2 separate regions of the Homo sapiens genome follow, and region 1 is linked to region 2. Evidence: fine-mapped expression QTL. A gene starts in region 2. The other region holds a variant in brackets. All regions are shown on one strand. Distances are between the middles of the regions. Region 1 overlaps MPZ (myelin protein zero). Region 2 holds the start of PCP4L1 (Purkinje cell protein 4 like 1).

The links. PIP is the estimated chance that this variant, and not a neighbour inherited with it, causes the effect.
Region 1: its variant is fine-mapped to the expression of PCP4L1 in fibroblasts (GTEx, PIP 0.93).

The regions. Positions count from the first base shown.
Region 1 is chr1:161,301,906-161,306,422 of GRCh38, reverse strand. It overlaps MPZ (myelin protein zero), which reads left to right. Exons shown (of 6, transcript NM_000530.8): 4 at 1-94; 5 at 255-315; 6 at 446-1,688. The coding sequence ends at 547. Among named protein-coding and RNA genes, the nearest start is that of MPZ, 5.8 kb to the left of the region's middle. The variant C/G (reference allele first, on the strand shown) is at 1,765.
Region 2 is chr1:161,256,538-161,260,749 of GRCh38, reverse strand. PCP4L1 (Purkinje cell protein 4 like 1) reads right to left here and starts at 2,005. Exons shown (of 3, transcript NM_001102566.2): 1 at 1,767-2,005. The coding sequence starts at 1,775. RefSeq lists an enhancer at 1,137-1,637.

The DNA of each region.
Region 1 (4,517 bases), 46 kb before region 2:
GTGTCCTCGGGGTGGTGCTGTTGCTGCTGCTGCTTTTCTACGTGGTTCGGTACTGCTGGCTACGCAGGCAGGCGGCCCTGCAGAGGAGGCTCAGGTAAGGGGCGGAGCCTAGCTCCCCTCCCCCTCTCCCCACTATCCCCCATCTGGGCGGAGACTACTCCAGTGGGTGGGAGGGCCAAGGGGAAGAGGAAGCTGTGTCCGCGGTGCAAGGGGTTCCGGCGAGGCCAAACGTACAGCAGTCTCTCTTCTTGCAGTGCTATGGAGAAGGGGAAATTGCACAAGCCAGGAAAGGACGCGTCGAAGCGCGGGCGGCAGGTTAGCGGGACTTGGGGCCTAGACAAGATGGGAAGGAGAACCCTGGGAGCCGCCGGGCAGCAGTGAGGGGTGGGATGGGAACAGTCAAGCCCCAGTCGCTCGGTGACTGATGTGTGCGCCCCTCCCCCAGACGCCAGTGCTGTATGCAATGCTGGACCACAGCAGAAGCACCAAAGCTGTCAGTGAGAAGAAGGCCAAGGGGCTGGGGGAGTCTCGCAAGGATAAGAAATAGCGGTTAGCGGGCCGGGCGGGGGATCGGGGGTTAGGGGTGGAGTCCGCCAAAGGCCCAAAGGTGATGGTCATCGAGATGGAGCTACGAAAGGATGAGCAGAGCCCGGAGCTCCGGCCTGCTGTCAAGTCCCCCAGCAGAACCAGCCTCAAAAACGCCCTCAAGAACATGATGGGCCTGAACTCGGACAAGTGATCGCCACCCCCCCACCCCAGGCCCTGCCAGAGCAGGGGGACCTAGGCTCCTCTTACCCCCGTCTAGGTGCTTTCCCTCTTTGCTCCCCCGCCCTGCCCTGCCCTCACCTCCCTTTGAGATGTAAGTTTCATTCCAGAATTCATTCCCCAGGCAATTGTATTCTCCCCCACCTTCACCCCTGGCTTTCTGGGAGCCCAGGAGCTAATCCTACCCCTCACCTGCCCCGGGGGCTGTGTGTTTGGTGCCTGTCCACCTGAGCACTGAGAAGAAAGGGACTTTGATACCCTCTGCCTCAAGTCCAGGCCACCTGGCATTCCCATCTCCTGCATCCCCCAGCCTGTCCCCCTGGCTGTTTCCTCTCCCGTCCCTCCCTCCCCTCTACCAGGTGGCCCAGCTCCATACTCTGTCCCCCCAGCTAATACCCAGAGCACCCAGATCAGACTCTCCTTCAGGGTTTATTTAGGTTATTATTTTTTATTTTTTAATCCATTCTTTGTTTGTTTACCTGTGCTCATCCTCTGCCCTTACACCCATGACTGAGGACCAATGACGTCATGTGGCTTTTGCAATTCACGCCCCCCTTAAGTCCTTAATGAAGAGCCAGCCCAAGTAGAGGGGCCCCTGATCCTCACACTTCAGTATAGCATTGGTTCCCCCTGACCACTTTGGAGCACTGTTCTGGGACTCCAGGTCTTGAGGAGAGAGACAGAGAGAGAGAATGGATCCTCATAGGTCAGGGAGTGGGGGAGGGGGCAAATGAGCCTTAAGAAATGGTTTTTAAACAACCAAACAAAAAGCAGGAAAAACAAATGGGAAATGGGGGGGCGGGGGGGAGGAAGAGGCTGCACTGCAGCCACAGGGGATTCTTAGGATTTTTCTACATTCTGTATATTTCTTCTCAAACCTCCAAATGTCCTTAAATGTTTAATAAACACTGACATTTCCAGAAGCTGCTGCCTTGTCTAGAATTTCCTAGTCCTCCTGGGAATAATTCCTGCCCCTTATCCCATCCCCAACCTTCCATA[C/G]TTGGCTTCAGTTGTTTAGTTTGTTTTTTTGGGGTGGGCTTATATAGTATACTAGAAAGAACTCTGAAATAGCCTCACAAGACACATTCATACCTTCAGCAAATAATCAGTGAGATTATACTACGTTGTAAACTCTGCCAGTCTCTGCTTTTACATGAGTTAAAACGCAGAATCTGTCTTCACCAAGATCTGAATTTTAAAACATCCCAGCCACTCTCTAGCTGTGTGATCCCCAGGACAGTTACCTGACTTTGGTAAGCTTGTTTATGTACTTGTAAACAACTGAGATAATGATATCTGCCCTGCTTAATTCCTAGGGATTTTATAATAATCAAATGAGATCCTGTGTATGGAAAACTTTGTAAACTGTAAGTTGATATACAACTAAATATTAAGGTGTTCAATATTTGTTTCTAGTGCTTGCCTAAGGTAGTACACTTTACAAATTAGCACAAATCCCATTCACCTCTCTAAACAATCACTGCTTTGTTTTGTTGGTACATGATTTTACTTCTGTTTACCTATTAATAGGTATACTATTAATACCTCATTAGCTAGTTTGTTGGTATGTTGATTTAGGTATACCATTAATATCCTGGTATCCTGAACTGATTGTGGAAAAACATATACGTATCATTTTCCCCTGGGGATTACTGATGGCACAAAAAAACCCAAAGTGCCCACAAGTAATTTCTTCCCCTTGTTAAGAAGCTAAAGATATGATTAACACCAGCTTTACCAAAACCCAGAGTGCTTCCATTTGTTTGAGGGGTGTCTTCAATGTCTTTTAAAAAAAATCAATCTGCCTTCATTTAAATATAAAAGCTAATAGAGTATATATAGCCTTTTGTTGGGGGGAAGTGGGAGAGGAAACTTAGTCACAACCCAGTAATAAAGTTGGGAATATCTTAAGCCCAAGATTCCTTATTAGTTAAGATGCTAAACTGTCCATTATTCATTAGATAGTTGCAGCTGGGTTCCCTGCTTAAACTTCCCAGACTGTCAGGAGAGTCAAATGAGGTTGGATGTGGTGGCTCATGCCTGTAATGCCAGCACTTTGGGAGGCCGAGGTGGGCAGATCACTTCAGGCTAGGAGGTTGAGGCCAGCCTGACCAACATGGCTAAACACTGTCTCCACTAAAAATACAAAAATTAGCCGAGCATGGTGGTGAACGCCTTCTAACCCTGGCTACTTGGGCAGCTGGGGCACGAGAATTGCTTGAACCGCGGAGGCGGAGGTTGCAGTGAGCCGAGATCATGCCGCTGCACTCTAGCCTGGGCAACACAGCGAGACTATGTCTCATAAAAATAAAAAAGAAAGAGAGAGAGAGAGAGTCAAATGAAATATTATGCTACTTATGAGATAGAGTATAGCTCAAAGCTTCTCATTTAATTACACTTTTGTTCTAAAATTTATCAGCCACCTGCATTTTGCTAGCTCAGTTTATCCAATTATTTTAATATTTCTTATTCCATCAAGAATCCTGGTACCCTGGGACAACATTTTGCAATCTCTTGCATTAGGCATTTTCACAAGCATTGCACACTTAATGTGGGTTTTTCCAGGACTGTGCCCATTTTCCACAATCCCCAACAAAGTAAGCCACATCCCCCCTTTCTTTCCTCTGCAGTAAAGCATTAAATAAAGTCTAGAATAATGATTCAGATAAAGGGAAATGACATTGTTATATGGGAAACTTTGAATCCCATCTAATTATTACTTTGAAATAAATCGTTCACAATCCTCAGTGCGTTGTTAATAATAGCAATAATTTTGCCCAGGCATGTGAGCACTTTGAGAATAATTTAAAGCCTTTTTCAGTGTTAACCATAAAAAGAAAAAGATTATAACCCAATTTATGAATACGCAGACAAAGAGTCTAAATAAAATATTTGCAAAAGAGAATTCCACAATGAGTTAATAAAATAATAAATTATGACCATGAAGAATTTACTCTGGGAATGAAAGAATAGTTCAGTATCAGGAAATTTACTAACAGGATGTGTTATATCATCAGGGAAAAAACGTAATTCTATCAAGAGGAGATGTAAAAAAAAAAAAGCAATTGTTTTTTAGTAGCTATTCCTACAAAACATTCTAAGTAAAATAGTAATAGAAATAACCATAATGGACACTATTTTTCAAAAATCATTTAAAAAGCATATTAAATATGAAATATTGCAGCCATTGTCATTAAAACAAAAGACAGTACTTACATTATCGCTAAAAATATTCAGTATTATATTTGAAGAATTTAGCTAGTGTAATTAACCAAAAACAAGGAACAATCTGTATACATAGATGAGAAACTTATCTTTATTTGCAGATAATATGATTGTGTTTCTAGGAAATCCATAAGATGCAACTAGACATGTATTGAACTAAGAAGTCAATCTGGTAGTGTGATTATAAAATAAATTAATTTCAGTCTATAACTAGAAATCTAGCTAGAAATGAAAATAATAGGGAAGCCCACTGATGACAGTAAAAAGAACAGAAACAGAAATTAACAAGAAAGGTACATAACCTGTATGAAAAAAATTATAAGATTTATTAAGTAACAATATGTGAAAGTTGTCAGAATCAAGATGGAGACACTCGTGTTAAAAAAGAAAAACAGGGCCAAGCGCAGTGGCTCACGCCTGTAATCCCAGCACTTTGGGAGCTGAGGTGGGTGGATCACTTGAGGTCAGGAGTTCAAGACCAGCCTGGCCAACATGGTGAAACTCCATTCTACTAAAAATACAAAACA
Region 2 (4,212 bases):
CTAACCAAATTCAGCTGCTGAGTCAGGAGGGAGCGGACTTGGCTTTCTCCTCAAACACCGAATTGTTTCCTTTGCTACAAAACAGGCTTCTCATTCCACCAAATACCACTCTAAATGCCAGCCCCTGTAGTGTGTCCTACAAAGGGGCTGTGCACTTACCCCAGAAAACACAGGCTAACTGCAAATCCTCACGTTGGCATAGCCTTCAGATCACAAACTCCCAGGGGATGGCTTGGATTACAACTTTCAGATTTAGAAATGCTCGGGGTGGGAGGAGTAGTATGAACCCTAGACCTCAGTGAAAAGGGGCAAAGAAAACCTCTCTTCCCACATTAGAGGTGAAAGAGGAGGTTGATGCGTTTTTTTCTTTTCTTTCTGAAAGATTGCCATCATCAGAGTCACAACCAGCTGAGGGACTGGAAACCACTTTGGTTCATCTGCAGCCCCCAGACTAGCCGAATTTTCCAGGATAAAATTAGTGAACACGGCAACCAAGACAACACAGCAGTTGGCACTAATTAGCTCCCTGGGTGACAACTTTTGGTAGGAGTCATAGAGATCTTCATTTTTAGTATCTAAACTGGAACCCAGGCTCCAGGGTCCTATTCCTTCAGTAATCTAATGTCTTTGGGAATTCTTCTGTTAAATTTCTGTAATACTCTAATGGGAGAGGAAGAAAAAAGAAACAGAAAGATAATAGCTAATATAGATTGAGTGCCAGGTCCTGTTTCAAGTATTTGGCATATATTATCTCATTTAATTATTACAACAACCAGTATTATCCCCATTTTACAGACAAAAAATGAAACAAAGGTTTTGTACTTTGCCTAAGGCTACATCACAGGTAAGTAGCTGGCCTACATACATATCTGACATATAGCAGAGGAGTTGGATTTAACACAACGATGTGGGTACTAGGAAAGAGGTTGCAGAGGGCAAGCTTGTGATGCCACTAACCAGACTGACTTCACTTGGAAAGGCTGATCCTTGTTTCTGGAGATGAGACTGTGCCTACAAATAGACAATAGGAGACGTCTTTCCAAAGTCTCTGCTTTGACCCCCCACTCCCCCACCCCATGAACAGTGTTCTTTGAAAACAGTAAATCAGTTAATGGCCTGGGTCTGGCCACGGTGAACACCACAGAGCCTGCCGGAAGACCTAGTTTGTAACAAGCACTGCAGAGGGAGGTCTATTCTTGAAGGGGAAATCTCCCCAGCAACTGGCAGGGGCTTCTAAATACCGGAACACGTCCCTCCAACGTTCCTGACTGAATGAGTGGAGGGCAGGATGCCACCTTTCTAAAAGGGGCACAGTGGCCCTCCCCGGGGGCCAGGGATGGAGTTCTTGTTAGATGCTACAGAAGGAATGTGAGTGCCTTACATCCCTAGGAGAGAGAGGACAGAAGCGAAGTGAGGGGGGTAAGGGGAGCCAGAATAATCTCGGGCAGTAAGACAGATGCAGGGGGCAGTATCCAGAGGGGATGACCTACCACCTGAGAGCTCAGCATCCCCGCTTCCGGACTCTACAGCCGATTCCAATTACCCCCAAAAGCGCCGTCCACAGTAGGGAGACTGAAAGCACCCCGTCTTCCAATCGTTTCCCAGCGCCCCGAGGTGGGAGCTTTCCTAGGAGGGCAGTGGGGCGCCCCTGGAGGGTTCTTCGCGGCTCCGGTCTGCCTCGCTCTCCCTCGCCTCCCTGGGATCCCGAGCCGCAGCACCCTCCCCGCCGCAGCCCTGCCGACAGCGCCGGGGGCCGCACCGCTCACCTCGCTCATCTCCGCAGCCGGACAGGGCGCGCGAGGCGCTGCACGCACAGGTGAGGCGAGTGGCCCTCGGGGCTCCGCGGGCGACAGCTGAAAGTTGCCGGGCTCTGCGGCAGGGGTTACAGCTGACCAGGAGAGGAGAGTTAGTGCGGAGAGCCGCTGCTCTGGTGCTGGCACCCGGGATTCTCGGAGCCCAGCTCCGGCCAGGCGACCCCCTGCGACCCGTCCTGTCAGAGCCGCTCAGCTCGCCGCCTCCGGCCCCACCTTTTATACTCAGCTCGGTACCCGCCTCCAGCCCGACCAATAGAAGCTCCTCCTACCGTAGAATGACAGCCTCTTGCATCCAATGCTGGCAGGTTTAGAGGTCTGCTGCATTTCCAAACTAGGGTAAGACAGAGAGCGGGAAGGAGGGGGAGACCATCGGGGGATGCGGGGACGGAAAATGAAGTAGGGGGAGCAAAGAAAGAGAGGGAGAAAGGAGATGTACACGAAGAAGGCAAGGTGGGGAGTGGAATGGAAGGAGTGTGTGAGTCTGAGAAAGAGAAGGCCTGGAAAGAAATCAAGAGGGTACACGGAAAACAGGAAACAGTGAATGAAAGGGGTAAAGCCAAGAGATGTTGCAGATTAAGATTTCCTAGTAGAATAGCACCCTGGAGGTCGGGCGCGGTGGCTCAAGCCTGTAATTCCAGCACTTTGGGAGGCCGAGGCGGGCAGATCACAAGGTCAGGAGATCGAGACCATCCTGGCTAACACGGTGAAACCCAGTCTCTACTAAAAATACAAAAAATTAGCCAAGCGTGGTGGCAGGCGACTGTAATCCCAGCTACTCGGGAGATTGAGGCAGGAGAATGGCGTGAACCCGGGAGGTGGAGCTTGCAGTGAGCCGAGATCGCGCCACTGCACTCCAGCCTGGGTGACAGAGAAAGACTCCGTCTCAAAAAAAAAAAAAAAAAAAAGAACAGAACCCTGGACCAGAGAATAGCACAAGAGAGGGAGGAAGGCTGGGGGAAGAGAGAGAGAGACAGAATGAGAGAGAGACTGGAGCAAATGGACAGCTTTCTTTGGCAAAGAACAGGGAAATTGTGAAGTGCCTGTTTGATGTGGAAGATCATAGATCTCAGGAGTTGGAAGACATTTTAGGATTCATCAAATCCTACTGTGTCTGGAGTTGGTTCCTTCTGGTGGGTTCTTGGTCTCGCTGACTTCCAGAATGAAGCTGGGAATTTTTGCAGTGAGTGTTACAGCTCTTAAAGGTGGCACGGACACAAAGAGTGAGTCAGTGAGCGAGTGAGCAGCAGCAAGATGTATTGTGAAGAGCGAAAGAACAAAGCTTCCACAGCATGGAAGGGGACCCGAGCACGTTGCTGCTGCTGGCTGGGGTGGCCAGCTTTTATTTCCTGGGGTCACCGCCCATGTCCTGCTGTTTGGTCCATTTTACAGAGTGCTGATTGGTTCATTTTACAAACCTCTAGCTAGCTACAGAGTGCTGATTGGTGCGTTTTACAATCCTAGCTACAGAGTGCTAATTGGCACATTTTACAATCCTCTTGTAAGACAGAAAAGTTCTCCAAGTCCCCACCTGACCCAGAAGTCCAGCTGGCTTCACCTCTCAATCTCCCCTCTAAACAGGACACCCCAGCTGCTGTTGGAAATTGGGCGATGACCACTCTAGCTACTTCCTGCTGGATGGGGGCGAAGGGGCCCTGCAGTGGTAGTATCCTCCAGAGGGAAACTCTCTAGGCCAGCCAAAGGGTCAGTGGGTTGGTCCAGGGGTCCTCGGTAGAAGTTGTTAGTTGAGCTCGTTTGGGGTTCCATTTGTAAGACCATCTGTAGCTTGATGGCATTGATCCTGGAGGAAACAAATTTGACAAAGAGGTTAAAAATACAAGGCCCAAAGGCGAGTAATAGCAAGATGGCTGTCACAGGACCTAGAAAGGGGAGAAGCCATGTCGCCTAACTCTGAAGGTTGGTCTAAGGGTTTGAAAGGCTTTGTCTGATTTCAGAAGCCTCTTCCCATAAACACCGGGCGGAGTCTCGTACTATCCCTGACTGGTTAGTGTAAAAGCAACATTCTTCCCCTAAGAAGGTGAAAGTCCTCCTTTCTCAGCAGTGAGGAGGTCTAGGCCTCAGCGGTTTTGGAGAGTCACTGCTGCCAAAGAGTCTATTTGGGATTGTAGAGTAAGGATAGATTTTGTTACTTCTTGTAAACTGTCTGAGAAATCCTTCAAGTGTGTGTGGTAGCAGGATAATGAAGTAGATAAACCTGCTATTCTGGTTCCTGTAGCAGTGGCCATTCCTAACCCTATAAGTAGGGGTATTAGTTGTATGGCCCTGTGCTGACAGGAGCTTTGTGGGGCACTGATAGGGTCTGATTTCCACAAGATTAGAAGTTAGGATAATACATGTTATACTGTTAACTTTCAGCAAACTTTACTTTTGTTGAAAACCT